Regions from separate parts of the Homo sapiens genome. Here regions 1, 2 and 4 are each linked to region 3. The links come from fine-mapping of genetic effects on gene expression. A gene starts in region 3. Each other region holds a variant in brackets. All regions are shown on one strand. Distances are from middle to middle. Region 1 overlaps VPS13C (vacuolar protein sorting 13 homolog C). Region 2 overlaps VPS13C (vacuolar protein sorting 13 homolog C). Region 3 holds the start of VPS13C (vacuolar protein sorting 13 homolog C). Region 4 overlaps VPS13C (vacuolar protein sorting 13 homolog C).

The links. PIP is the estimated chance that this variant, and not a neighbour inherited with it, causes the effect. A credible set is the group of variants that fine-mapping cannot tell apart.
Region 1: its variant is the best candidate, but not a certain one, in a credible set for the expression of VPS13C in tibial nerve (GTEx, PIP 0.74).
Region 2: its variant is the best candidate, but not a certain one, in a credible set for the expression of VPS13C in whole blood (INTERVAL, PIP 0.74).
Region 4: its variant is the best candidate, but not a certain one, in a credible set for the expression of VPS13C in whole blood (TOPMed, PIP 0.81).

Annotation. Positions count from the first base shown.
Region 1 is chr15:61,858,645-61,866,530 of GRCh38, forward strand. VPS13C (vacuolar protein sorting 13 homolog C) reads right to left here. Exons shown (of 85, transcript NM_020821.3): 82 at 4,796-4,884. All of the region lies in intron 2 of LOC124903501 (a long non-coding RNA gene), which reads left to right. Among named protein-coding and RNA genes, the nearest start is that of LINC02349, 130 kb to the left of the region's middle. The variant A/G (reference allele first, on the strand shown) is at 4,439.
Region 2 is chr15:61,935,608-61,943,493 of GRCh38, forward strand. It overlaps VPS13C (vacuolar protein sorting 13 homolog C), which reads right to left. Exons shown (of 85, transcript NM_020821.3): 46 at 6,156-6,460; 47 at 5,040-5,187; 48 at 990-1,143. Among named protein-coding and RNA genes, the nearest start is that of VPS13C, 120 kb to the right of the region's middle. The variant A/G (reference allele first, on the strand shown) is at 4,435.
Region 3 is chr15:62,055,870-62,063,755 of GRCh38, forward strand. It overlaps VPS13C (vacuolar protein sorting 13 homolog C), which reads right to left and starts at 4,578. Exons shown (of 85, transcript NM_020821.3): 1 at 4,406-4,578. The coding sequence starts at 4,505. It overlaps VPS13C-DT (VPS13C divergent transcript), which reads left to right and starts at 4,634. Exons shown (of 2, transcript NR_135690.1): 1 at 4,634-4,974; 2 at 5,099-6,565. RefSeq lists a silencer at 4,440-4,789 and an enhancer at 4,840-4,889.
Region 4 is chr15:61,846,524-61,854,327 of GRCh38, forward strand. It overlaps VPS13C (vacuolar protein sorting 13 homolog C), which reads right to left. Exons shown (of 85, transcript NM_020821.3): 85 at 5,866-7,804. It overlaps LOC124903501 (a long non-coding RNA gene), which reads left to right. Exons shown (of 3, transcript XR_007064668.1): 2 at 2,874-2,949. Among named protein-coding and RNA genes, the nearest start is that of LINC02349, 120 kb to the left of the region's middle. The variant A/G (reference allele first, on the strand shown) is at 4,588.

The DNA of each region.
Region 1 (7,886 bases), 200 kb before region 3:
TAGTTTATGTAGGTGGGCCTGACCTAAGTTCATGGACTATAAATCTGCGTAAGAGACCAAGAAGTCAGAGATTCAAAGCACCCTTGTTGGGTTGGAATAAGGGTAGCTTCTAGGAGCTAAGAGCAGCTCGCTGGCTGACAGAGGTCAAAGAAACAGGGATCTTAGAATTCTGCCAACAACAGCAAATGAGCTTGGAAGTGGATTCTGTGGTAATTTGTTGTGCAGCAATACAAAATGTATACAGTCTCTAACTGGTCTCCTTGCCTCTGGACTGATTCTCTTCCAGTATAACATCCAAACCGCCAAGGATCTTTTAAAACTACAAGCCTCATCATATTACTTGTTTACAAACCTTCTGTGGGGTAGAAAAAAAGAGAGATTACTCACGTGTGTACTATTCTGTGTGAGAAGCTACAAGTGATATCAAATAAAAAAATAACTGCCAGCCAGTTATGATGGCTCATGCCTGTAATCCCAGCACTTTGGGAGGCCAAGGTGGGAGGACTGCTTGAGCCCAGAGTTGAAGACCAGCCTGGGCAACATAGTGAGACTCTGTCTCTTCTAAAAATACAAAAAATTAGCTGGTGAATGCCTGTGGTACCAAGTATGCAAGAGGCCAAGGTGGGACAATCACCTGAGCCCAGAGAAGTCGAGAATGCAGTGAATCACGATCGAGCCACTGCACTCCAGACTGGGCAATGAAAATGAGAACCTGTTTCAAAAAAATAAAATAGCAGACTATACCTTAAGCAAAAACCAGTGATTCTCCATCACATTAATGATAAAACCTAAACCCTTAGAATCTTATGAGCTGCTACCTATGACTGATCTCCCAACACTAACACCCTACCATCCAGCCATTCCACACTGATCTTACTGGTCAAAGTGCCATACTATTGTATGCCTCCACTTGCCTCTAGTTTACCTATGCAAGAGCTACATACTCAAGACTCAGCTCAAGCACTCCCTCATCTATAAAAGCCTCCCTGACACTTTTCCCATGACACTGTGGTCCCCATCTTACTGTACCAAGAGTTTTCCCTATGTCCTCAGAGACTCTGTCCATCGCTCTTCTTAGCACCTATCACACGGTGATATCATTGATAATTTGTAGCCCCCTGCCCATTAAAATAGGGAAGGAACAGAGATGTAACTTCATCTCTGTGTCCCTGTATTTGTCATATGTTGATGGTTTTTTTTTTTAAAGTCTGCTCAATAATGAATTTCTCAATAAAGATTACTAAAATAAACTATAGCAGAGTTAGGACCAACTAGTAAAGCTATAGCCTAAGAAACTTAGGTCTTGAGAACTTGTGTTTTGATTTTAAAAACTCATAAGAAAAAAAAATTCAGGGACTAAGTTTTGGGTGAATTTCAAAACAAAAAAATGCTATATACTGAGAAACTCAATTAGCAATCACTAACATGTCAATAATACATTTGACAAAAAGGGCTAATATCATTAATTTGCAAAATGCTCTTTAAATTCAGTAAGAAAAAGACTAACATACCAATGAAAAATGAGCAAAGAATATGAACAAGTAATTCACAAAGTAGCAAATATAAATAGATGATGATATATTAAAAGGTACAGGCTCAACAGTAATCAAAGAAATGCTAATTAAAACAAAAAATTATTTTCTACCCATCAAGCTAGCAAAAAATAAAAGTTTAAGTGATAAAACCTAGTCTCAGCAAAACACAGGAGAAAGAACACTTTCATATATTGTTGAGTGGTATGTAAAAAAACTGATACAACCTTTCTGAAAAATGACTTGGCGATATACAGAAAGGACCTCAAAAATCTTCACAACTTTTAAATTAGCAATCCCCCTTTTAAAATTTTATTCTAATAAAATAATAGAAAAAGATTTGGTTACAAATAAATAACAATAAGATACTAGGGAAAAAATGTCCAATAGTGAGGGAGTATTTTAATAAATTATAGCATATCTGCAAATACAAAATTATGTAGTCATTAAAAATCATGTTGTCAAAGAATATTTAATGCTTTGGGAAGATGATGACAGTATATTGTTACATGAAAAATTGACAAGACTAAAATGTAATAATGCATTTTTTTGTACATAGTTTTCGTAAAATGTGCCAGCTAATGGGGTTATCTTTGGGTGCTGACATTGCTGGTAAAGGATATTTTTAGGGGTGATCATATAATCTGTTATTCAAACCAGGATGTTTTTAAGAATGAAAGGAATAGCTATTGATAATTACATAGGGACAAAACGTGCAAGCAAATCTACTATGTCCTAGGCAAACTAGAACGCATGTATGGTTAGTTATTTTCTTTCTTTTTTTTTTTTTTTTTTTTTTTTTTGAGAGACAGTCTTGCTCTGTTGCCCAAGCTGGAGTGCAGTGGCACAATCTCAGCTCACTGCAACCTTCGCCTCCCAGGTTTAAGTGATTCTCTGGCTTCAGCCTCCCGAATAGCTGGGATTACAGGCATGCGCCACAAAGTCCAGCTAATTTTTTGCATTTTTCGTAGAGATGAGGTTTCACCATGTTGGCCAGGCTGGTCTCGAACTCCCAACCTCAAGTGATCCGCCCGCCTCGGCCTCTCAAAAGTGCTGGGATTACAGGCTTAAGCCACCACACCCAGCCTATTTTCATCTCCTTATTTTCAATACTGGGGTGGCCAAACTGTGCCCTTCAAGCCAAATCCAGCCCAAGACCTGTTTTAATATATAAAATTTTACTGGAACACAGCTATGTCATTCTTGTACATACTGTTCATAGCTGTTTTCTTACTATAAGGGCAAAAACAAAAGGTTGAGAAACACAGTATGGCCCTTAAAGTCTAAATTTTACTATCTGTCCCTTTAAAGAAAGTTTGTTGACTCCTGTTCTATGTTATCTACAATGAATAGCCATAACTTTAGCAATAAAAATTATTTTGGATGTGGTGGTGCATGTATGCCTATAGTCCAGGCTACTTAACAGGCTGAGGCTGGAGGATCACTTGAGTCCAGGAGTTTGAGTCCAGCCTGGCCAACACAGTGAGAGACCCCATTTCTTTAAAAAAGAAAATGTTATTTTTAAGAATACTGAATTTGGAAGAAATGCTACTATTTTAATGTAATCATTAAAGGTCTAAATGATTACCATAATGATAACTACCTCAATCAAATACATTCTTGTTAGAAAGAGTCTACTAAGGCCAGGTGCTGTGACTCATGCCTGTAATCCTGGCACTTTGGGAGGCCAAGGTGGACGGATCACTTGAGGCCAGGAGTTCAAGACTAGCCTGGACAACATAACAAAACCCCGTCTCTAATAAAAATACAAAAATTAGCTGGGCATAGTGGTGCATGCCTGCAATCCCAGCTACTGGGGAGGCTGAGGCACGAGAATCACTTGAACCCAGGAGGCAGAGGTTGCAGTGAGCTGAGATCGCATCACTGGACTCCAGCCTGGGTGACGGAGTGAGACCCTGTCTCAAAAAAAAGAAAGAAAAGGAAAAAGAAAAGAAAAGAGTGAGAAGAGAAGAGAAAAAGTAAAGGAAAAGGAAAAGGAAAGGAAAGGGAAAAGGAAAGGAAAGGAGAAAAGAAAAGGAGTCTACTAAGTAAGGTTAGCAAGGAAACTAAGTCATAGTATTTACTGGTCAGGTATATTTTACTAATTACCTCCTAAACAACTCCATCAGTGACTAGATTTCAAATGATGATGATTTTTCAATGTACTTGAAGAAAAACCAGATATATAATGTATACAGTAATACTCCCACAGAATGGCTTAAATCAAATAGGTACTAAGTATTACCAATAAGTATTACCAAAAAAACCCCAAATTGATTCTCATTGCCCAGTACTGAATTATATAAAAGTGATACAATTTTAAAATGAATTAACACATTGCAACAGCTAAGTACAATATCTAAGACAAAAAAACATTGTTTTTGGCTTAATCTATTGAAGACAATATAAAATTATGGACATAAAAAATAAGTGATTACTTGTCAAAGTCATAAAATCTGCTTTTTAGATTGTTTTGTGAATATTTTTAACTCTTAACTAATGAGCAAATCACATGACTGGAGAATCCTCTCTTACATGAGGATTCTGACATGACTGGTTAACCTCTCTTATCCTGTCATTCAGCTTTTCTTTATTCCCATTCAAACAAATTTAAATGCAGTCATGAGGAATCTAATGCAGATTTTGCCACTGTAAGAACTTTGCCTTACTCTTATAAAGCTCAACACTAAGAAAGTTCTGAAAATTATTAATATATAATTGTCATTTTGGGATAATTTTATTATCTAGGATAGATCCCAGGAAAATAAGCTTGGTAGTTTACTATAAGTTCTTCTATTTGGAAAAATCTACCACAACCAAATGCTTAGGAAAAGCTGAGATAAACATATAGAAGTAATGCCACCCTTTAAAAGGGGTATGCTAATCACTCAAAATAAAACTTAGTA[A/G]CAAAAGTGATTCATGAATTAATCCTCCATAACTGGACTTGTAATTCATGAAAAAGGGTATCACTATTACAGGTATAAAGCCTAGTCTACATTCTCTCAGTGGTTGTGTAACTTGGATAAGTCCCTAAGCCACACTGAGTCTCAGTTTCAGCATCTTTCAGATGAGGAGGTCGGAAAAGAAAATCTCAAAGGACCTATTTAGATCTGTATTGTGATTCTATGAAAATGAACATTTTGCCATTCACTTTGGAGAATTTTAAGTACAATTTTCCAACTCTTCTGCCATTTTAGCCTTCAAAATTCTTGTGACCTATGCAACTAAGTACTATTTGGAAAAATGTCACTTCAAGTCAGTACCTATTTGTAACCATAAGGATTGTCTTCTTGCTTCCAGGAATAGCACAGTGGTATCGGTAAGTCTCTCCTTCCAACTTTTTGATATGATTCTGAAAAGGAAACCAGGCTCTAGATTTGGGAAGTTATGCATTTAAGTAGTATTTACAATACTGCATATTAGCTAATTATAATAATAGTGTTAGGAAAAAATTAATTAGAAATAAAAGCACAATTCTACATATTGGTACATGAAGCTAGAAAAATATTCACAGCATGTTTGTAAGTTAACTTCCACTGTTGCCTTAAAAGAAAAACATGTAATAAATGCTTACCAAGTGGTCTTCTGGTAAAATACATTTTGTTCTGTAGTAACTTAGAAATATTAAAATATCTACCAGCAATTATCACACACTTTAATTAAGAAACATATGCTAATATAAAATAACTACATTAACATTACAGGGGATTTGAAATAGGGGTCACTGGTAGCACTTTGCGGTGGGTCTCTGAACCACCTAACATAAAATAGAAAATTTTGAAAACGTAGTTCTAAAACTTTTTTCAGGGCAGTTAATATTTTTTGTCAGTTTTTTTTTAATCACAGAGGGGGGTCTGTGATCTCAAAGATTAAGAACCACTGGTTTACATAGAGGTATTAGTAGATATTATACACATAATAAAATTCCAAGATAATTAATGTTTAATGCTTTGAACATTTGATCTTATACGTTAAACATGCGTGGGGAAGTATATTTATATATCAAATTATATTTCTTATAGAAAAGAAAATATGACAATATTAATATGAACAATTTCTAAGATTTCAAAATAGCTGGCACAATTTATTTCTAAAAACAAATATGAGCATAAAATAATTCAAGTATAAGTAGTAGCACATTAAAACACATTTATTTTCCTTTTCAGCTATCTCAAAAGTACTGTGACTTGAATTAGTCAAATATTAAAAACGAGTTTTTTTATAATGAATGCTAATGAAATACTATTACTGACATTATATATAATGCATGGCTGAAAATAGATAATATATATGAAAATACAGAACATAAATATACTGAATAAATAAGACCTTGACATTTTACGACCAAGAATATAATGCCAATATTATTAAAAGGATAATATAATCAATATAACCACAAGCAGAGAAATCACATTTGATATTATTTCAATGCTTAAATATACATTTTTTAAAGTTGCTTGGTACCTAGTCATTCCTTGACAATTGCAAAAAGCCATGAATAAGGAAGAGGAATCCACAAAGAACTGGGATCTCATCTTCAGAATGAGTCTCAGAGAGGAGTGCAGATTTCACAGCAATAGCTACTTGTTTCACAATTCACTTGTGCGAATTAGTTAAAATCTTTTAACACTTTTGCCTTAATTTCTTCAAAGAGAAAATGGGAAATGAATTTAATAATGTAATGCATTTATCTGCAGCTTGAAATTTAAATATGTTAAAATATTTAGATCTGAAATGCAAGTACAAGAAATACTACCCACTTTCTATCTTGTATGTATTTTCGTTAGTTATTAGGCTATTGTGCTTCAAGCCATTGACAGTTTTTAAAATATAATTTATCACCATAATACACTTTAGAAAACTTGTCTTCAGCACTACTAAAAACCCACTACACTCTGAGATTCAGATTAAGATATTCAGTCACTAATGGCAGCAGGGAGACCAAATTAGTTGATAAAATATTCACGTCCCCTTTCCAAAAATGCAACTCGAGGAATTTAACAATACTTTGCAAAAGCCCTTTACCCAGTAATTCAATTTTTTCAAGTAAATTCTAAGGAAATATGAAAAAGCAAACAAGATATAAAAAAGCAAAATCTATAATGATGTTTATTACAGCATTATTACTGTTAGTAGAATAATTTAATGTCATGAATTAAGACGAGATAAAAACACAATGTAATGTCACCTCAATAGATGGCAATACAAGAATTAAAAATGTTAATGAGGCATTTCTAAGAACATGGAAAAATATAACTAAAACTAAAAAGCAAGAAATGCTGTTTTAAACGTTGCATGATCATAAGTATGTGAACCAAAATGAGTATTAAATGACTATATATACATACATATAATGTATGTATATATGTATGTGTAAATATGTGTATGTTTGCGTATATATGTGTGTATATGTGTGTGTATATATGTATGTGTATATATGTATGTGTACATATGGGTATATTTGTATGTGTGTATATATATGTATGTGTATATATGTGTATATTTGTATGTGTATATATATGTGTGTATATGTATGTGTGTATATATGTGTTTGTGTGTATGTATATCTGTATGTGTACATATATGTACGTGTGTATATATGTATGTGTATATATATGTGTGTGTGTATATATATATGAAGATTAGAGGATAAGTAGAATAGTACATCTCATGGAAATATAATATATGATTCAGTAACTCTCAAAGCTGCATATTAAAGAATACAAAGTAGTACTTAGGAGAAAAAGGAACATGAGGATCAAAAGATCCCCAAATAAATTATTTAGAATTTGGCCATATTACAAAGGGCTAAAAAGATATACTTTTATACTCTAATACTCTTTAATATTTCCATGTTTTGTTTTACTCGGTCCCTTAAGGACAGAAGGCTTCTTTTGTATATCCAGTACAGTCTAAATAATCAATAAATATTTTTACCCAACTAACTGATCACAGCAAGATGGGCAAAGAATGAAATAGCCTAAATATTTCAATTATCCATGCCCACACTTGACATCCACGACAAAAACTACCAAGTCCTCTCATTAGTGTATAATCATTCTTTTTCTTCCAGTAATTATAATAATGCACTAAAGTTTTAAAAGTTGTCTGATATCTTAATAAAAACTAAGAAATCAGACAAGATTATATGTTCAGACAAAATAATTAAAAGTTTCTTGAAGTTTTGTGCTTTTTGACAGAGAGTTATAAAAAGATATCACAAGGAAAAAATTAATAACAGAGCTAAACAAAACAATTAAGAAAAAATCTTAAGTTACAGGGGTTCTTAAAAGTAAGTCTCAGTAAAACAGCAATATAACCAGTAAAATTAAAAATTGTTACTTTAGAATCTCA
Region 2 (7,886 bases), 120 kb before region 3:
CTGTCTAACTATAACAACAGCCTTTTTATCTAGCATTTGTCTGTATGGTGGCACAAACTTCACCTGGGGAGATGTTGACCTCATCAAGCTTATGCAATACTTAAAACTATCCACTTAAACCAGAAACCTTGCACACTGTTCTAGTCATTTGTTTGTGTGATTTCAAAACACACCTAGCCTAACTATAGGAGAAGCAGTGTTGATATGGTATATCAACTGGTAGTTTTACCGATTACTGTCATTTGAAGTAACAGCTGATGGTATGAGAGCATTAGAAAAGCACAGCAGCCAGGACCATTTACTATATGGGCAAGGGGTACTTCATCTCTTTTTAGCCATGAAAATATTAACCTATTTACAGTCTAATTAAACATAATATTCACATCAATGGCTTTAAATTATGAAAAAAGAGTGAAATTATATGTAATATAATCTGTTTAAGAAATCAAAAAGAAACCTTGTATTTTAGAAAAATTATTTAAAAATGGCTGAATTCAAAAGGTTCACTGCTTTTAATAGGTTCAAATTAATGATCTGAAAAATTATCTTATGTATTTGAAACATAACGCTCCAATAAGTCCAGATAAATAAAGCTGTTACAAGAATACCTTCCTTTCTCATGGTTCAATCACCTGAGTATGACATGTGATACCAAGGTCCTTTTCTCTCTTAATTAATTTGGGACCTTACTACACTGCCTATCTAGCTTGATTCTTCTCTCAAGATACGCCACTTCAGTGCCTAGTGAATTCAGCAAATTTAGCATTCACAAGTAAAGGGTAAACAAGCACCATGCCAACAACAAGTGACCCTTCCCCCTGTAGCAGAGAACAGACATACCTCCCAGCCCCAGCCGAATTTCCACAGTAAGTAGTACAATACTGAATTAGTTCATACCACATTGTGCTGGACAGCTAGAAAAATACTAAATATAAATATGACATTAACACCAATTTTTTCTCCATAAAGTAAATATCATCAATTTATACCTTTGAGATGGTCAGGTACACTTGAAACATCAACTTTTCTCACTCTTACAGTCTCCTGCACAGACTGTGTAGGGCTTGGTTGTGAGGAAGCTTCTCCAAGATTTTCTAGCAAAATTTTCATTAAAACTGTCAAGTCATCTTCACTGAGAGCAACCTAGAAACCACCAATAATTTGTTAACTCTAAGTAATAAAAAAAATGTAGACTATCATATCTATATCTCGATTTGTGGTTTTTCAAATTAATTGTTCACCTACTTAAAAAGAAGAGAGTTAGAGTTAGGACTATAAATACCAGAACAGAAGTATTTCACCTTGTTTACTGTGTGCACACACACTTCTGCCTTCGCCCATATCCAGGCCCCTGCCTCTGGCACTCCAACACTCTCTATGGCTTATCTGTTACTATGTCTTCCTGTTCCTGGACCCGTGCCTATCTGTCCCATTTCCCTATCTTCCCATCTCCATTCTGTCTCTCTCTCATCTCAACCAGTACCAGTTCCTTCTTCTATATTATTTACTCTCCTTGAAACTAAATACAGGACGAGTGTTGTTCAGTTTCTAGTCTCTACCAAATAGTAAAAAGATGCTCTCCTGCTACGTAGCTCTTCATCTCAGTATATATGCATCTGGACATACATAAAACATTTGTTTAACTTATCAAGAATAATACCATTTAGAACAATAACAAATGTATCTACAAAGAATGTTTAAAGAACAAAAAATAGGAAGGTAGCATCTTATCTTTTACCTTCATAAAAGGGTATGTGTGGCAAAAAGAAAAAGAGCCAGGGCTTTGAGTCAGGCAGATCTGTATCAACTACCACTTTCAAGCTGTCTTGCTGCAAAGTTTCTTAACGTCCTTAACTCAAGTTTCTTTTCTTTTCTTTTCTTTTTTGAGATGGAGTCTCGCTCTGTCGCCCAGGCTAGAGTGCAGTGGCACAATCTTGGCTCACTGCAAGCTCCGCCTCCCAGGTTCACGCCATTCTCCTGCCTCAACCTCGTGAGTAGCTAGAACTACTGGCGCCCGCCACCACGCCCGGCTAATTTTTTGTATTTTTAGTAGAGACGTGGTTTCACCATGTTAGCCAGGATGGTCTCGATCTCCTGACCTCGTGATCCAACCGCCTCGGCCTCCCAAAGTGCTGGGATTACAGGCGTGATCAAGTTTCTTAATCTCTAAAATAGGCATAATACCAACTTTCTCACAGATGGCTGCAGAACAAGAAACTAAAACAAACGAAACTGCTACTGGCTGCTAAAATCCATTAAACCAGTACTGTCTTTGAAGCTCCTTATCCTTCTACCTTATGTAAGACACAGTGGCTCCAAAGGCCTGTTTCAAGTACTTACAAATTCACACAAGCATGCATGCAAGCACGCATGCATAGCAAATCTCCTCTGAATACCACAGTACCCTATGTCCCCCAAATTAGGTCCCTACCACCAGAGAAATTGCCTAGTTCCCACTTTAAATGAAAATACAGAGCTATTTAAGTACAAGATAATGACCAGGGATTTATGGCTTGTCCTAAGCCCCAGGCCTCATATAACAGGTGTAATTTTAACACCTTAGAATTTCCTTGTATATCCCAACCCACTTCTCATACCAACCAAGATTACCACAGCTTTCTGAAGGGCAACTAAGTTCACCCCTCTTTCACTTTGCTGTGGGGTGGGGGGGGAACAAGTATGAAGGACAATTTTGAAAGGCAGCCCCACAGTTCTTTAAAAACCATCAAAATGATCCACCCAAAACAACCTGTAGGTATCACCTGCCTGATACCCTTTTTTAGCTGCAGCCCAGACCAGGGAAACAACTTGCCAGTGTCACCTGCCTGATACCCTTTCTTGGCTGCATCCCAGGCCCAGGAAAACTATACAGACTATGACCAAAGGGGGGTGTTTAGAGAGACCTGGATCAGCGACAAATTAGGCAGTGGTGGCCTCATCCACTGTTGCTGCATTCCTGAGTTAATAAGGATGCTTTTGGTTAAAGTAATTATAATACTTTGATGCTAAAGTATCAGATGTTACTTTTTTTTCTTGTTTCTTCTAAAATACCTTAAAAAGCATAAAGGAAAAGGACAGAGAATACTATAATCTTCCCCTGTGAATCTACCACCTGGCTTTGTCAAATCTTAACAAGCTGCAATATTTCCTTCAGATCTCGTTTCCCATTACAGATATAGCAGAAGCCCCGTGTGTACTTCTCTGAGACCCTATTCCCTTCTCCTTTCGCCCTTAGAGAAAGACACCAGCCTAATTTAGAGATTATTTCCATGAATACTTTTCTTAAAGTTATCACACTGCATCTCTTATAAACAATATATAATAGTATTATATTGCCTGTTGAAAATCTGAAATAATATAAAACTGATAGAACTGTACTATCATTTTGCAACTCACTTTTTTCATTTTTATGTTCAAGATATATCAATTTTGTTTGATATAGTTCTATTTTATTCACTTTATCTGCTTTACAACATCCATTATATGAAGATACCAAAATTTTATCCATGTTCTGCTACCAACAGACATTCAGGTTTTACTTATGCTTTCAACAAACCTATAACCACAAAATCTTTGAAAGGGATTGTCAGATATTAGTCCTGGGATCTAATCTTTGAAAGGGAGAGCCAAATATTAGTCCTGGGATCTAACCTCTTGGCAGAAAGACAGAAATTAAAAGAAGGTACCCATACTCTGGAATAAAGGCTACCCTATGAATGCCCAAACAAACAAAATTTAATAATTGTTCTTCATGTAATATATCCACTAGTATATGAACAGAAACCCTTCATTTCTACAACAAGCTTCAATTTTAACTTCTTCCCTAGTAAAACTCTGCTCCTTTGATCCTTCCTATTTCATGTTAGAACCAACTCTGAAATAATCACAGGTATGAAAACCCATTAAACCACTAAATTTTTGTTTGGTTTTGTTTAGTCTCTCTCACCCCTATCCCATCCTCGGCTGTTTGGTTTCAACAGTTTCACACATAGGCACACAAGAATCACAGGATTCCTATACTTCCACGACTACCTTCAACCAGTCTCACCTCCTCCTCTGAGCTGATATGCAACCTTCTAGCTACATTATTAAAAATAACGCTGTGGCCGGAGCACGGTGGCTCACGCCTGTAGTCCCAGCATTTTGGGAGGCCGAGGAGGGTGGATCACCTAAGGTCAGGAGTTTGAGGCCAGCCTGGCCAACCTGGTGAAACCCTGTTTCTACTAAAAATACAAAAATTAGCCAAGTGGATGGCGGGTGCCTGTAATCACTGCTACTCAGGAGGCTGAGGCAGGAGAATCGCTTGAACCCAGCTAGTGGAGGTCACAGTGAGCCTAGATCATGCCACTGCACTCCAGCCTAGGCCACAGAGCAAGACTCCGTCTCAAAAAAAAAAAAAAAAGTTGTATACTTATCAAATATACACATTTGCCT[A/G]TTAAAATGGTAACACCTTTCTAATTAAAACAAGGCCTCTACAAACTACACTATTAAAAATAATGGTGTATTTATATGCTTATCAAATATACACATTTGCCTATTCAAAATGATATCACCTTTCTAATTAAAACGGGCCCTCTACACATTTAAAAATACTAAGGTGCTTTGAATGTAGTGTCTGAATATCACTTTGCATTGTCTTACAATTTAACTGCATTAAAACTTTAACAGAATTTTCCAAAATTAAGAATAATATTTTTAGTACACTCCAACAGATTTTATCTCAGACTCCTTGCTGGTTTTACCAAATATCTAACTAAAATGAAAACAAAGAAAAGTGAGGGAAACAAGGATGATTTCATTTGCATATTTTTTATTTATTTATTTTTGTTGTTTTTAAATAGGAAACAAAATCTAGTTTACTCAATTTATTACTTGGGCAAAAGTACACATACAACAGACAAATGCTCACTAAGAGAAAACTGGTTTAGCTTTATCAATAACGTAGCAACTCCTACATTCTGATATCCACTAGAACTGCACTATGATCAACGAGAAAAGCCTATCAAGAAATTTTCATATATTATATACTAGCTACTTACCTGCATAGGTTTTAGTTTTCCTTTTATCTCCATCCCTGGAATTTGCACATACCATGCTGCTGCTAAGTTTCGCTGTATGGACAAAAGCATGTTGACTGGTTTTAAAATTTCAATGTCATTTTGTGGCAAGCTAGCCTGCAAAATAGTTCTGAAAGAAAAACAAGAATTTATTTTTTACTTCAAATTTACATTTTAAAATGAGGACTATCCTATTGTGTAACAGTTTCCACACAGCATTTCATAAAGGCTAAAAGCTGCTAACAGAAGTCTTTTAGAATACACTTCTTTTCACATTTTTAAGATCAATCTAAATCACAACACATAAGTTTATATGCAGAGCTATCCAAAACCAAACCTACATAACACTGATTTCAAAAACATAATTTTCATACACTATGACAACTGCATTATTTATTATTTTTCACAAAGGCTGTTTGATACAGCGAATAGTTTACTGTCATGCAAACAAATGTTACATCCTCCTAAAACTGGAAGATGAAGAAAGTAATCTTATACTTAGCCCTTAATATGTTATTGGTACTTCTCCAGACTCAAGGGGGAAACTCAACTAATCTAAAAGTTAAACGAACATACGGTAATAGTCATTCCAGCTTGCCTGCCAACAACCATTTGCCTAACCAAATAAACGCTCTTGTCACTCAATAGAGCCAACACTGTCCCATTTCGATTCACTAATCCTTTCGATAACTCACTGAAAATTCCCAAATGTGACAAGGTTTGGAAATGAGAAATAAATCTTAAATTTTATATATTACGAAGTTTTTTCCCACCAAAAATAAAAAAGGAAATAGCTACGTGCAAAGTGAGAAAAATAAAAAATTTAAACTAAGTATTGAGTAAACTATAATTTTATAATAGCTAATTTTTATAGAATGAAAAAAATCATATTACATATGTAGTAAGGGAAAATACAGACTCCATGAGGCACATACATGACTGTTTAACCACTGACCAAGAAGCCAATGGTCAAGGTTTCATAATTAGAAGAAATAAGGAATGAAAACCACAAATTACTACAACATTTTACCTTAGGTAAAAATTGTATGAAAATCCTATTTCTAGTAAGCAATACACAATTAGATTACATATTTATACCTTGACAGCTTCAACTGAGTGAGTTCGATGTTCATTTTATCAATGACTGGAGGAAGAGAATAATGTTCCATAGGAACCAAGCTAAACTTGTTTTCAACTCTGATTAAACCCAGATCTGCTATAACAGCATTAGGTGATACTGAAGACTGAGGAATAATAATAACTGGTGCTTTCAAATTAATATCCATCAAAAGGCGGAAACTCTTTTGAGCCAAGTCTTTCATGCTGGAAGCAGCTCTTTCTGCAGCCTGGACTGTGGCTGTACTCAAAGCTTCTTTAGCAGTTTGGAAATTGTTGAGGAAGTTCTGTTGGAAGAGACAGATATTTAGGGGAAAAAAGGCATTTATTTTTAAAAGAAAAAACTTTAAAAAGCATTTACTTTAAAAACTAAATAAAAAAGTAATATAAAAGATGTTATTTATGATTTTGTGTATGTAGAGAGTGAAGTCTAGAAACATACACTCTGAGCTATTAACAATAGTTACTGTAGGAAGAAAGAGCTCTTTCTTACATTTCATAAAATATTTTTCATTTTATAAAATATTTTATAAAATATAAAATAATTGAGAATTATTTTATTCTCATGATAAATTTTTGCAACAGTTCTTTTAAAAATCTCCTTTTTATTAAGAATGTTGGTTATTTTAAATTCAAATTTAAATGAAAGGGAGAAGGGCAGTACCGTACTTCTCCAAAATTGGGTTCAATTCTGTACTGCTAGGCCACAGCAATAAAGTTTAGTCTTAGAAACTAAGCTTCTGCCGGCTTATTTCTGATAAGGCTTTTTTTTTTTTTTTTATGTACTCAGCATGAGGAAAGACAGTTAATTGTCTACAATCCTGTAATCATTAGTAAGAGTCAAAATTTATTTATAATAAGATGTATTTCATCTCAATTTCAACTAAAAACAGAAAAATCTTTCCCAATGAGGATAAGATCATTCTCAGAAGCAATATTCTTGGTGTACATCCATTAATATTACAAAAGCAACCTAACCTCCCCGGCACCCACCTCCAAGTTAATTGCTCTCTAGAAAAGTAAACATGATGGTTTAAGTAGAAATGCATGCTTTTAAGGAATCATGAGATTCTGCACATGGGAAACCCTAAGGACTCCACCAAAAGGCTCCTGGAACTGACATACAACTTTGGTAAAGTTTCAGGATACAAAATCAATGTACAAAAATCAGTAGCATTTCTATACACCAATAACATCCAAGCTAGAGAGCCAAATGAAGAACACAATCCTGTTTACGATAGCCATCAAAAAAACAAAGTACCTAGAAATACATCTAACCAAGGAGGTGAAGGATCTTTACAAAGAGAACTAGGAAACACTGCTGAAAGAAATCACAGATGACACAGACAAATGGAAAAACATTCCATGCTCATGGATTACAAGAATCAATATTGTTAAAATGGCTATACTTCTCAAAGCAATCTATAGATTCAATGTTATTCCTATCAAATGACCAGTGTCATTTTTCACAGAACTAGAAAAAACTATTCTGAAATTCATATGGAACCAAAAAAGAACCCAAATAACCAAAGCAATCCCAAGCAAAAAGAACAAAGCTGAGGCATCACATTACCTGACTTTATACTATACTATAAAGCTACAGTAACCCAAACAGCATGGTACTGGTACAAAAGCAGACAAACAGACCAAGGGAACAGAATTGAGAACCCAGAAATAAAGCTGTACACCTACAGCCACCTGTTCTTTGACAAA
Region 3 (7,886 bases):
TTCTCAACTAACATTTTGAGCTGGACAATTCGCTGCAGGAAGTTGTCCTCTGCATTGTAGAATGTTTAGCAGTACTCCAGGGTCTATCTGCTACATGCCAATAGCACACCTCTTCCCTCAGTGTGGCAACCAAAAAGTCTCAGACACTGTCAAATATACCCTGGGTACAAAGTCACCTCCCACTGAAAATCACTGCTTTAGGCTAGTTAGACATTCCAGTTAAGATGTATCAAAGTAGTTTATCAATTGATTCCAAAGAATAGTAAGATCAGGTATGTGAGGTGGGCGGCAAGCCACCCAGGCGCCAAGGCAAGAGACCAAGGACACGAGCTGTTCCAGTATAATAAAATATAAAACAAGAATAGTTATACCATATAGATCTTAGAGATATATGAATATCATTAATCATTAGTTTGCAGTAATTACTCTTTATCCCAATATTATAATAATCCTCGCTGTACAATCATAACCTAGGAAAAACCAGGCCATACAGAGATAGGAGCTGAGGGGACATAGTGAGGTGTGACCAGAAGACAAGAGTGCGAGCCTTCTGTTATGCCCGGACAGGGCCAGCAGAAGGGCTCCTTGGTCTAGCGGTAACGCCAGCATCTAGGAAGACGCCCGTTGCCGAGCGGAAGGTGGTCTAGCGGTAGCGAAAAGTGTCAAGGAAAAACACCCGCGACTTAGCAGACCAGGGAAGGGAGGCTCCCTTTCCCCGGGGGAGTTTAGATAAGACTCTGCTCCTCCACCTCTTGTGGAGGGCCTGACATCAGTCAGGCTTGCCCGCAGTTATCCGGAGGCCTAACCGTCTCCCTGTGATGCTGTGCTTCAGTGGTCACGCTCCTAGTCCGCCTTCATGTTCCATCCTGTACACCTGGCTCTGCCTTCTAGATAGCAGTAGTCAATTAGTGAAAGTAGTAAAAGTCTCTGATATGCAGAAATAACGGCATAAGCTATCTTTCTCTCTGTCTCCTCTCTCTCTCTGCCTCGGCTGCCAGGCAGGGAAGGGCCCCCTGTCCTGTGGACACGTGACCCACGTGACCTTACCTATCATTGGAGATGACCCACACTCTTTACCCTGCCCCTTTTGCTTTGTATCCAATAAATAACAGCGCAGCCAGACATTCGGGGCCACTACCGGTCTCCGCGCATTGGTGGTAGCGGTCCCCCGGGCCCAGCTGTCTTTTCTTTTATCTCTTTGTCTTGTGTCTTTATTTCTACACTCTCTCGTCGCCGCACACAGGGAGAGACCCACCGACCCTGTGGGGCTGGTCCCTACAGTGAAATATTTACAAGATGAATTCTTCCCTTTCTCAAGACTTGAAAATTCAACAACAACAACAAAAAAAAAACTCTGTGAACTGTAAACCTTATCTGCTAAAGCAAATAGTTGTCAAAGAAGATTATATAGAATTTTCAATTTTTTGTAAAACTTGTCAACATCATGGTTATCATAAAATGTCACCTATTTTATTAAATTAATATTCCCATTTGTTTACCCAAAAAAGTTTAAGACAAATTTCTTTAGCAATATTTTGAAAGAACAGGAAAAATCAACTCAGATATCTTGCCTTCCAATTTTATTGAGAAATTAGGGTTATCAACAACAGACTGTGCAATAATGATAAAAGCTCGTGACTTCTAGCTTTATAGCAACCACAAAAATAAAAGGCAGCAAAGCTTTACAGAGGCAGAGTTGTGAGCTGATAAAGCTAGGAGAATCCCTGATTGGATGTTCACTAGACACAATATGTGAAAGAAATGGGTTTATTTGCTCAGGCCTATTATAAAGTTAATGTTGGCCACTGGCAGAATACCTTATTCTAAAAATTTAAAAATGAGATGAAAGAAAGTCTCCTTTTCTAGATTTCACCAAAAAAAGACAAAAGGGGAAATAACATAAAATTACGACATTTTTAATTTCAGTTGTGAAAAACTTCAAAATCTTCAAGCAGTATACTCCTCAATGTCATGGTAAAACCATTATCAGAAGAACAGAATATTGGCATCACCTTCGATGTTACCTAGTCCAACCTCCAATTTTAAAGATAAAAGAGAGTAACATTTGATGGCAATGGAACCTCTGACTATATCCATACGTTTTATCTTTTTAAAAAGAAAATGTCTAAAGTAAATATGGCATAATATTATAACATTGAAATATGAGTAATTACATGAAAGTATTATATCATCCAGTATGATTTAAACTTTTCAGAATTTAAAAATATTTTTTCTATAAAGTTTAAATTAAGATGAAGAAACTAAGGCCCAATAAGGTAAGTGGCTTGTCCAACACAGCACACCATTCACTAGGCCTATTCAGATTTCAGATTTGCTACTCCGGTGCGTTTTCAAGTTTCAAATGTTTACAAACTATAAGGAATCACTGGAAAGAATATTGCCAGTATTCTGAAGAAATACTTGATTTCTGCAGAAGATGCTGGTCATTTAATTCCTTAAATGTGTCTTTCTTTACTTACCTTTCCTTTACATTGTATTGAGTGTGGTGGGGGGATGTAAACAAAGAATGTACAGTAGGCCCTCCATATTCACGGACTGAACTAACTGCAGACCAAAAATATTTCGGGGGGAAAAAATAAAAAGTATCAATTCAGCAATAAAAAAATGCAAATTAAAAAACAACAGAACAACTATTTACATAGCACTTACTTATTGGGTATTATAAGCAATCCAGAGATGACCAAAAGTATACAGAAGGATATGCATAGGGTACATACAAATACTAGGCCATTTTATTTAAGGGACTTGAGCAACCTCCAATTTTGGTATGGTCAGGGGTACTGAAGCCAATCCCCCATAGATACCAAGGGACTATTGTATTGTTGGGCAAACCACAGTGAACCAATCAAATGATCAGCCACCTATTAAAAACAGGCTCTTGCCAGGCACTATAGCTCACACCTGTAATCCTAGCACTTTGGGAGGCTGAGGCAGGAGGATCACTTCAGCCCAGGAGTTGGAGGCTGCAATGAGCTACGATCTTGCCACTGCACTCCAGCCTTGGCAACAGAGCAAGTCCTTGTCTCAAAAAGACAAGCCAAAAAAAAAAAACAACAACAACAACAACCAGGCTCTTCCGTAATTCAGGGTATAAACAGCATTGCCCAATATATGTTCCATATACGTAATTATAAATTTTAGAAGCCAAGTTTAAAAAGAAAAAAAGTAAAACTAAAAAACACGGGAAATACACTTTAATATTATATTTAATTTAACCCAATATATTCAAATATTATTTCAACACATAAGCAACATAAAAATTATTGAGGTATTATTTTTTTCTCCTACTTCATTAGGAGTAATGCTTATTCAAAACGATGTTTTAATTCATACAGCAAGTCTCAATTAGCACTAACCTCATATCAAGTGCTCCACAGCTACAGTGGCTAGTGGTTACCCTAGTGGACAGGGGAAGTCTATAGCTATTTGTTGTTGCTTGAATTAAAAGCAGATCCATACATTTGAGTCGTTTTTTGAATTTTCCTCCAAAGCTGACAAAGTTCCCAAACCTTTTGTGGAGTGAGAAAGTCCCAAAGTCCTCAAAGCTTAACACGTAATTCATGCAAACGATTAAGCTCGTTGAAGAGTGTATGTTTAAGTACACTATTTCCTGAATACTTTTATACACTTAATCTCCAGGATAAAAACGTTGGCATAAATTCCTGAGCATGCAACCAAGCAGACACCTAATTAATGACGATGCTGGTCGAGGCTTGAATTTCTCTCTATTGCTCCAAAACAAAATTCAAAATCCTCTTCGTATTGACGGAAAAGTAAATATTAAAGGAAGAAATCATTTTCACAGGAGCTGAAAGCATTAAGAGTAAGAATCCCTAAGCACACGCCTATCTTAAAGATCTCCTGCCCGTTCCTCTCCAAACCCGGTAATCCTAAAGAGAAGGAACCCAGTTCTTGCTCCCTGTAAAATGATAGTGAAGATAACTGCGAGATGCAACTTCCTCCTTTTTTCTTAGTGCCACTTCGAGCGTATATGACCAGACAACCATGCTCACTCCACGCGATACCGAAACAGAAAGGGCTCTGTTTTTATGCTGTAGGGCCAAAGGGGCCACCCTGAGTGCAGCGAGAGGACCACAGAAACGGGCAGGGCGGGGACAGCAGGGCCAGGGCTTGGCCTCGGGGGACGAGAAAGGTGGGAACTTTGGCAGCGCGGGCGGGATCCCGCCGCATCTCCCCAGCCGGAGTCGGGACTGGGACCCCGAGAATCCGCGGGCGGCAGAGGCTCCCGCATCTAGCACCTGCCGCACCGGGATGGGGAGTCTCAGGCGGCGCAGGGAGCAGGGCCCGGGCAGAATCCCGGACGGAGCAGCCCTCGGCTGGGCCCTCAGCGCCCGCAGCCCACTGGCCGCGCCCTCTCGCTTACCGCCCCAGATGCCCAGCTTCAGCTGGGACTTGTTCAGGTTCTCCACATAGTCCCCCAGGAAGCGGTTCAGCAAGTCCGCGACCACCGACTCCAGCACCATGGTGGCGCTGAGGCACAAGGAGAGGGAGGAGCCGGAACCGCCCGGCGCAGCTGAGGGCTGCGACCAGCGCTGCAAATGACAGCCCCTCCGGCGCAGGCCCACCCCCGCGCCGCGCGCGTGACCCCGCCGGTGCGCAGGCGCGCTGTCGCCCGGCCGGTAGCTAAGGAGGCCCAGCTGTGATCCCGAGGCTTTGTAGGCGCCGCAGCCCTGGCCCTCTAGAGGCCGACGGAGGAGTGCGGGGGAAGTTAGCTTGCGCCTGTCTCGTCAGCCGTGCACGAGAAAAAAAAGGACCTTCGAGAAGAACAAGGGAGGGCAAGAGTTACCGAGTACAGGGACATCTATGTGGCCGCTCTGCTTTCCCGCCGTCACCTGCTGTTGAACTCCGGCCGCATCGCGGTGTCCGGAGCCGCCTGGCCTGGAGTATGCGCTGAGCGTCACCTAGGCAACCACCCCTGCACCTGTGGATCAGGTGGGGGAAAGGGACCGACCGCGTTCTTGTCCTGCTAGAGTTCGACTCCGCCTGGGGCTTGGTCTCTGCTTCTTGAAAACATTGTTTTTTTATTTTGTTTCTGTTTTGTTTTGTTTTGAGACAGGGTCTCGCTCTGTTGCCAAGGGTAGAATGCAGTGTCGGGATCATAGCTCACTACAGACTTGACATCCTGGACTCAAGAGATCCTCCTGTGTCAGCCTCCCGAGTAGCTGGGACCACTGGCGCGCGACAAATAATTTGAAAGTGGGAGGAGGGGAACAGAACCACATCAAATGGCAGATATCATAGAATGAGAACTGAATATACGCGTTTTGTGGGAAACGCGTTCTTTTCCCCTTTCTCTAAGATTCGCTTTTAATTCACTAGCCACTAACCAGTTACCTATCTCATTACAGATATAAAAAACAAAACGTAGTAGTGCCTTTTTAAGTATGAGTTACTTGTTATTTATATATCACTTTCTTCCATGCTATCGTTGAACTGTCTTTGATGTAGCACGACCTTAAAAGCAGAGCTTTTATACCACAAGATCTTTCAACCCTTGTGAAATTTAACCACCCATTGAGATTCACCTCTTTAGAGAACTAGAAATTTTTTCCTAAAATATATTTCAAAAAGTTGTTGAGATACAGTACACAGGAAGAAACCTAAGAAATGCTGATTATTTGTAGTCACAAGCATTAATAAGTGCTTTGCTACGAGGAAGTGTCTGAGAAACTATTCGTGTATTTTTCTTAAACAACCTAGGCTTGCACAGGATCACAAAGAAAAATCTTAAATTCAAAGTCCGCTGGAGAAGAAAGAAAATCAAAATGGCTACAATTGGTGTTGTGTATTAAATAAAATTAAAAGTACAAAGAAAGACCCAGTCAGTACTAACTAGTACTATCAAGATCACATTCCTCTCCCACTTTTGCACACTCCATTCCTCTTTAAGAAGATAAATCCTTAACCGTCTGTTTTTCCTAGCTGGTCACAAAGACAAAATACTAGTAAGTACTTTGGATTTCTTCACCATCCACAACCAAATAACAGCCTAACCTGTCTATTTTGCTTTTGCCATCTTTCCTAAATTCTCCATGTTTTTCTTCTGGACCATGCCATCCATCTCCTTGAAATTCACTTCCTAGCCTCCAGTTATTCCTTCCTCCAGTCTATTCTCATGAACACCGGATGTGTTTTCCCAAAGCACAGGTGAGCTTAGGTTAGTCACCTGCTCAAAAACATCCAATAACTTCCCAGTGTTTAGAACACTCTCTTCAAACTTTCTCCACGTTCTTTCTAGTCATACACTCTAACAATCCCGCTTCCTTTTTACATTCACACTGACTATGCTCCAAGAGGAATGTAAAGAAGCAATATATGTTCTGGTTGAGATAAGGCATGTACCATAAAAAGTTAAGAAAGAAGCCAATCCAAGGATGTATGAATAACAGTATAAGATGATAGGAAAGATGGCACAGGCAACATAGCTTGGTCAAGCAGGTGGAGCAATAGGCACAATCTCTTGGGAGAAGTGAGTAACACTAATGCTTTGTCTAATAAAGTAATTCCTTACAGTTCTATGGTATAACTTGGTAATTTTGAAAGAATAATGTGTAAATGTGCTTTCATATGCATCATTCAATTTTATTATGTTTCAGTTATACTTTGTAAGGCCTCATGTCATTATTATGCGAAGGTAGGCATTTTTGTGTACTCCTCACAAAAGAGCTGTGAGGTAGCTAATGCAGGTAGTAGTATGGTCCTCATTTTACAGAAAAATTAAGCTCGGGAATGTTAAGTGACTTACCCAAAGTCACACAGCAGATATTAATTTCCTTTGATTCTCTGAGCACTGCCACCCTTTTCTCTTCTGGTAATTATACAATTTAATCAACACTGGGCTATTAGTCATTTTCAGAGATCTTACTTTGAAAGGTTCATGACAGAAAAAATAAATCTCAGAGTGGAAAATTTGGCTCTACATTTTTGGTACAAAAAAATGCTATTATCATGTAGTATAAAAAGCTTTAAATTTTACTATTTTCCATTTTCAGCATGTTTTAAGGGATTGATTATGTGCATTCAGTAATGCCCCAAATCTTCCATTATTTAACAAGTCAGAAATATACAGTCCCAATTTAAAACAAACTATAACCAATGTCAAGAAACACCATTAGCACCCTTATGTATGGCATTATATCAGAAATAATTTGGATAACAGAGGTTAAAGAAAATGAGCATTCTAATTAATTATAGTTCTTGCCTTCATTCTGGCTTAAGAACAATGAGAATGACAACAAAGGAAATTACAAAACTAAACTTCAATGAGGGACTAAACAATAAAAACAGATGAGCAAAGTATTTCTGTTAAAAACAAAAGTATAAGTTAGGGACACTTAAAAATTAACTCAAAAGTGTTTAAAAAAAAAAAAAAAACTTCACACTAACCACCACCCATACCCTATTCCCCAACCCTAGAGTTTTTGGAGAAAAGCAGAAGGAATTTGGGGGAAAGGAAATGGAGGAGAAAGCTGGAGTATAAGCCATGACACCATGGACTGCAGGAAAAGTTAGGGAGGTTAACTAGGAGAAAGCACGGGAGTGGATTTCAGAATGTTAGTGCCAGAGGGAGGATCATCCTGTTAATCCAGCCCCCTCAATTGACAGATGGAGACACTGAGTGCCAGGGAGAATTAAGGGTTTGCCCAAAGTCCCACAAGTTAGTGACTGTCAGAGCAAAAACCCAAACCCAAGTGTCCTGACTCCCTGCTCTGTATTCTTTCCAGTACCCCATACTCTAGTTGTGTTGAACAAGATGCATAAGTCAGAACACTGGTGTTTTATTGGTTGTAATCTCTCTTCTTGCTTTCCTTGACACTCAACCTCCTATATTTTTGTAAGTATGC
Region 4 (7,804 bases), 210 kb before region 3:
GCATAGTGCGATAGAAAAGGAACGTGATTTCAACCAGTTCCTGAGACTGCACTTCCTACCTATATGAACTTGGGTAAATCACTTCTACAAACATGTTTCTTCATCTACAAAATGGAAAATCACTACCTGCCATATAGGGCTGCTATTAAGACTTAAAAAGATTAAGTATGGATTTATAAACTGTAAAGCTCTTTAGTATGTTAGTTAAAATGACCTTTCTCTGATTTTGTAATTTACTCCATGCAAATTAATCTGAAGAGTTAACATTTGCATTCCATTATCCAAAGCAATGATTCCAACACATTTCAGATGACAGGGCTGACCAGCAGAGAAGTCTTCTGAGTGGGTGATGGCTTATGGAGAGCCCAGGTTGCGCATGGTGTGATCCATGACCACCTCACACAGCACTGGTCCTTAGACAACTAAAAGGTGCTGCTGAGGGTGTGCATCTGAGAAGGAAGAGCAGGATCCCATTTTCACAGCAATGACCTAGCTCCCGACTCAGCCATTCCTGCCCACAGTTCTTTCAGGGGCTCTCTTTTGGGACTCAGTTACCTACAGTCTCCACATCTAGACTTTTCTCCATGCAAGGACTAGTAACAATCTCCCACACTTTCTCTTTTGATTTTGTTGGTGGTGGTGCTGTTAAATGTTCTGTGGTTTTAAAAAAGAAACTCACTAATGATTAAGAATACACATTTAACATCTTTAGGAATATTATGAGAAAGAGGAAAAAACTTCTGCAAGCAATACATCTCACCTTTTCAAAATAACAATTCTACATCTGGTCATTTTATCAATATTTGTAAAATCTAAAGGGATCCTTAGGACATGAGGCCAGTCTTCAACTCCTTTTGTGAAAAAGGCAGATCTGGTCCAAAGGTCTTACTTTCAAATGAAGAAACTGAGGCCAAGAGAAGTAAAGGGATTTTTAAATCTACAGTACCATACAAATTTACCCTTACTGTTAGCAAAAGTGGTGAAAAGAATAACTCAACCATATTCTTAAATAAGTAAAAGTTACAAGATTAATAAATTACAATAATGGGGAAATGTTACTTTACATAAGTAATTGCTTTAATAGGTTGGGACACTTACTACTGTTAGAAAAGCAGTAGAAAATATGGAATTGTCAAAGCATTAATCTGCCTTAGTTGATTCCTGGAACATTCCTGCAGATCAGTGCACCATATCCTAAAAGGAACATGGATGAACTTGTTTGTTTAAGGAGTGCCACCAGGATTATGGGATGACTTGAAGTTTTGTCTCATTAGGGATGGTTTAGGTAGAATAAGATGAGAACTTGAAAATGAAACTTACTTGCTTGCTGGATAAATGGTAGGACATGAGGCCAGCCTTCAATTCTGCTAGGTAGTGCTCCCATAGCTAGGCTTCTATATACACAAAGAGTCATTCTTATTCCGATAGCCCTAAGGATTTGGGCTCAATGGATGGAAGCCACAAGAATAGATCTATGCTGAATATAAGGATCTCCCAACCATTAACTATTCTATGAGTAAGTACAACTAAAACAAAGGCCCCCAAGTGAATTATTTTTGCCAAAAAAAATGATTAAAATTAATCCATTCCACACAAAATAAGTATCATTAGTGCTTCTGAAAGAGCTGCACTATAATTCGGTGGCAACTGAGCATTAATTTTAGGTCGTGTGGGAAATATATTCTTATTCACCAGTCTAAGTCATGGGTACTCAGTCTTTATGGCCTTTACTAAACAGTGTTTTCAATGGTGTCCATTTACCATCTGGATTGTAATAATAGTCATGCAAGATTTCTGTTCTGTTCATTTGAGGCCAACTCGAAAGGAGTGCTTTCCAGGTCTCTCAGTTTTAACCATGGGAATCTTTTTCACAAGAAAGCACTTGTTTCCTGCTGCCAATAATTCCAGATATATTCAAATGTCCCATAGACCTTACAACTATTCCAGAATTCTTCAGGAGTATGATTCCCTTATCTTGGCGTAAAGAAAAAAAAAAATCTACTACCTACTTCAGTAACAGTGATAGATTATTCAACTGACTGCATAGTCCAAGAAATCTTTATTGAAAAAGTTAAGAACGCTGTTAATCTTCTAGTTCATGCCCTATTTTTTTTTTTCGTTTTTACTATTTTTGAGAGCATGAATCACTGTGAATTGAATGAAGTGGGAAGATTTGATCAGAAGTGTCAAAGTAGGTTAAGCCTCTCTAACAGTACTCCACAGGGAAAGGAAATGTGCCCTGTTCCAGAGTGGCTGCTTAATTTAAACCATCAATAAGTGCTTGCTTAACTAATTTGCAGCAGCATCCTCTGGTGAAGCTAAAATTTTATAGTTTCCATTCAAATTGCAATCTTTGAACACCTGCTCATTTGTTACATTACTACTCTATAATGTCATGTGCCATGCTCAAAAATATCATTTCTACTTTGGCAAGTCCCTAGCCAGTTATAATAAAGTATGTATCTTGGGCATGGTTTTTCTACTCCTGATATCAGTAGAACTCTATAAGGGTTTATGGTAGAACCCCATGCATTTGATTTTTAGTTTTGATTGTGCTGTGGAAATAGAGGCAAGTTTTATGTCCCATATCCAAAGTTTTTATTTCCTCATTTGTATACCTCAAAAGCTACATATGCTAGTCAACTGTCATAGTAATATTAGACCATATGTAAGAATTCTCCAGGAAAAAAATGTTTTAACTAAGGGCTGGCTTAGGTTTGGGTGTTACTATGGGAAATGCCATATCACAGTTAGGTGTAAAACATAGATAGGGAGAGAACATAAAATTTGGGGTTAAGGGTATAAGGTTCTAAAAGAAATCCAAGAGGCCAACACTGGCTGCATTCATTCAACACCAATGTCCTTGTTTTTAGGAAGAAGTAGAGATAGAGAGGGATGTTGGTGATGTTGGATCCTAATTTCAGTTCCTATCTCACCACAGGACCTTGGGTAAGTCATCTGATATCTGTTTGTCCCATCTGTAAGATCAATTATATGACACAATATAGGGATCAATGAACTTTTCTGTAAAGGGTCTGATAGTAAATTGTTCAGGCTTTGCTGGCCGTATTGTCTTTGTCACAATTACCCAACTCTGCCACTGTAGTGCAAAACCAGCCATAACCAATGCAAATAAATGGGTGTGGTTGTTCCAATAAAACTTTGTAAGAACAGATGATTTGGCCTGTAGGTTGTAGTTTGCCAAGCAATAGTATAATATCTACTTAACAAAGATAACTTAATATTTAAAGAGGTGCCATAAGAAGAAAAGTTAAAATGATGCATAGAGAAGGAAGACTTAAAATGATGGCAAAAGAGAAAAGTGGGTGAAGAGAAAAACTGGTACCATAAGATAAATGTTTTCTACAAAAACAAACAAAACCCAAATACCAAGAACTGAAATCTACTCTTGGTGAAAATCATTTATCAAGGCATTTAAACCACTTTAGGCATTGTAGTCAATCTCTGGGGAAGTTGCTTGATCTTTCTTCAAGTTTAAAATAATGCTAAAGAATTAAATCTTCTTTGTAGTGTTGTTATAATCTTAGTGGATAGAGGACCATGTTGGTATATATATTTCATTACTATTCTAATTTTTTCCCCACTAGAAGTCAATTTTTAAAATCTTTTCATCCAGCAGATATGTAATGTACAAAAGGGATAAAAATAATTTTGATGTGCTTATGTTTCCATATTTGTTCTCAAGTGTCATCCTTCTGATACACATCATGTGGCAACATATATGTTGACACCAATTTCTCTGAACTCTTTATCAAAAAAAATTTGCCAGCACTAACTGTAAAATGAAACATTAGTATGGTCTGAGAGGGAAGAAAATTCTGTTGTTTCTTAGAGTTTCTCCTATAGTCTATGATTTTTCTAAAATTTGAGAAGCAAATTTAATACATTGAGAATTTTGTAGGTATACAGCTCTACAATCTCTTACCTAAAACCCTGAGGCTAGATGTTTCAGAATAGAGGACTTCACATTTAAGAAAGGCAATATGGGCTGGGTGCAGTGGCTCATGCCTGTAGTCCCAGCATTTTGGGAGGCCAAGGTGGGCAGATCACCAGGTCAGGAGTTCAAGACCAGCCTGGCCGATGCGGTGAAACCCTGTCTCTACTAAAAATATAAAAATTAGCCAGGCGTGGTGGTGCACGCCTATAGTCCCAGCTACTCGGGAGGCTGAGGCAGAAGAATCGCTTGAACCTGGGAGGCAAAAGTTGCAGCGAGCTGAGATCGCACCACTCCAGCCTGGATGACAGAGTGAGACATCGTCTCTAAAAAAAAAAAAAAGAAAAGAAAAAAGAAAGACAATATGGTTCATATACCACATAGAGCTTGTATGCCTCCAGGGAAATCTGCAGCAGCACCCCACAACCAAATAAAGTACTTTTGCTACAGCCAAATTATCTACACCAAATAGAATAAAAGACCATGAATAGCCTCATGTCAATTCAGTTCAGATTTTGCTGCCAAATGTCTTTGTTTCAAAGTTTTGCAAAATCTTTTGGTTTTCAGAGCCTTCTGAATTTTTGAATTTTGAATAAGGAACTATGTGTCTGCGGTTTGTAAAAACAAAACAG[A/G]AAACTCTTTCTGAAGACTTTTTCACCTCAAAGAGACCCACAGTTGACTGTTTGAATGATACACACTTATAACTGAAGATACTTTCCAGCATGAATTCAAGAATAAGCCTCAATTTTCCCACTAGCGGCACAGTTACCAAGAGAAATGTGCTCCCTCCGCTCCAGTGAGTCTCGATTTCTTCTTAGAGCTGACACACATGGCACAGAACCCACTTTCATCAGTACTCATGGTCATTCTGGCAGTGATTCTCAACCACAAGGGCTTGTCCCCAGAGGACAAATGACCCTGTTATGAGCAATCTTCTATCCTCTAAGAATCTTTGGTTTTTCTCCCCAATAAAAAGATGATTCTTCCAGCTCTGGCAATAATTGCAACTTAATATTAACTAACATTGAGATCTGTAGAGCCCTTTAAGAATTTGATCATTTTAAGTCCAGAGCATTAATTTTTAGTCCTGGCTGTACATTAGAAACACACACAGAACTTCGTTAAAAACAGATATCCAGGCAGCACCAGATCAACATACTTAGAAACTCAAAGCACCAAAAAGATGATAGTGTCCTCCTTCATGCATAATTCAAAATAAAAACAATACTAAATCATAAAACACATGGAAGTAAGTCCACCCTGGATGGCATTTTTCTTACGAAGCTTGGGTACAGTCTTCTTCCTTTTTTTTTTTTTTCCTTTTTTAATGCCCCTGCTTTGCTACAGCCCTCAGCATGAACTTATTCTTCCTACCAGATAATCCAGCACTGGGTGAGCCTTCCAAACTGGTAGTCTGAGCCCCATGTGGAAGAGGGAGGAGAAGAGAAAGACAGCGGTATGGTAGAACATCCCAGACTGCCATGCAGTCTAAGAAAGGTTCTGCAAGGCCACTGAAGAGTCTTCAAGCCAAAGTCGGCTGTCAGAGGAGTTCTGTGTCTCCTAGAATTTCCAGACTAAGTATGTCTTAGTATAACTTCATACTCAGCCAGTCGCTGAGAGAAACCACGGAAGGCATGGGCTCAATGCAAATACAGCAATGGATTTCAAAGTGCAGCTGGGCCCCTAGGTCAACCGCATTCTCTGTAATCCCCCAGTATTGGAGGTCTCTGCCACAGATCTCTAGTGTGATAAAGGGGCTCAGTACCCCTGAGAAAAAGCTTTTCTGACTAGTATCTTGTAAAGTCCTCCATAACTATCAATATAACTTCTCACTATTTTGGGATTGGAAGAGGAAAAGGGAAAGACAAAAAGTAAAGCAAATGTTACTTGAATAACACAAACCCACAAAGTTTTCACACCTGTAAACAATGTGCCAAATGTTTTATTTCTCTCATATGCAAGTAATTACCTCTCAAAGCATTTTTAAAAAACGCATTATTACACTTTACCAATGAATTATTTCTGTCCCTGGAGATTAAATCAAATCAAAATGTTACAAATAGTATCAGTATGATATAATTTCTTAAATATATGGGACATTGTCAACAGCTGTGATTCATATGAAAAATATAATCAGATATCTCAAATTCCTAATTCTGTTTTAAAAACACAAAACACTAGAACAGTTGCTATGAAATTACTGATAATGATCCCTTTAATAAACTGCAATTAACCACTAATATAGAAATTCAATTTAAGCAAGAAGTTTTATATATTATACTTTACAGAAAAAAATAATTTTGAAAAAGTAATGACAAACAGAGATCAAACATTTAGGGCATTAGTTACTGCATTCTCTTTTTAGAATATACATTAAGTAACACTAGTAAAATTTAAAGTTTTATGACCAGGCCTTAAAAAACATGAATGATGATGACAGAACCACTATCACACATAAACAAAAATAGAGCAAACCAAGCGTGTCCACATCTCCATGAATTCAGTGATTTGAAATAAATGTTGTTATGTTAAACATTATGAGCAAATCTAAAGGTTCAACCAAAAAACTTACATATTTTTGAGTATTTTTTAAAGTTTTAATAGTTTATCTCTGATCAAGGATGGAGAAAGGACAAAAAAAAATACTGTCCTGAATTGATTCTCACAGGGCCTGCTCCCTCACAGAACACAGTGTCATTATATATGCCTTATTTATATATAAAACAACCAAAGAATTTTCATTCTTCTTAGTAAGTATTTAAAATACATTCTAGGCGTGCATTAGGAGTAAATGTTAATTTGTGATGCCCTTAAAAGACTTTCAACCTGTAAGAAACAATTTCTGGGAATATAAAAATATTGAATTTTACATATTTCAGAGTCTTGAGAAACTTAAAGTGCAGTATTTTCATGTATCAGCAAATAATAATTGTGTCATATAAGCTCATCTTGAAAGAGGATGTAAATACTTCCAAATTTTTATGAATGCTACATTACAGAGGGCAGAGTGTAGCTATTTTAAGGTTTGATTGTCCAGATTTTTTTATTAGACTGCAAGGAGGAAAAATAAGCACCAAAGTAAAATATGCTTTATTAGGGGGAAAAACAGTGTTTTCATGAAAAGAAAATAGAAAACATGTCATTTCTCCCTTTAGTGACCTTTCTTCATTCAATTACCTGGTTTACCAAGAATGTTAACTCAGTTCAATTATTGAACAAATCACTCTTAAACAAAATGTCAGGATCCAACATTTGTTCATGGGTTAAAGCCTTTTGGCGGGCCGTGGTGGCTCATGCCTGTAATCCCAGCACTTTGGGAGGCTGAGGCATGCGGATCACAAGGTCAGGAGTTCGAGACTAGACTGACCAACATGGTGAAACTCATCTCTACTAAAAATACAAAAAAAAAAAAAATTACCCAGGCGTGGTGGCACACACCTGTAATCCCAGCTACTCAGGAGGCTGAGGCAGTAGAACAGCTTGAACCCGAGAGGCAGAGATTGCAGTGAGCCAAGATCGCACCACTGCATTCCAGCCTGGGCGACAGAGCAAGACTCGGTCTCAAAAAAAAAAAAAACCCCAAAAAAACAAAAATAAAAAAACCTTTCAAAGAACACTAGTCATTCTAAGCTCATTTCTTATTCTTCAGTAAGGCTTTAATTAAATATAAGCCTATTGACCTTTGCTTCACAATTTTAATATTAATGAAAATTTCATTCTGAGTTTGAAGTGACGTTTCTTCAAGGGTCTGACCCATTTGGGTGGTGGCGTAGAAGTGGACTGCTAGCATATACATGGTTACAAAATTAGAGTAAAAACTAAAAGGTGAAAAAACTAGAAAACCCAATA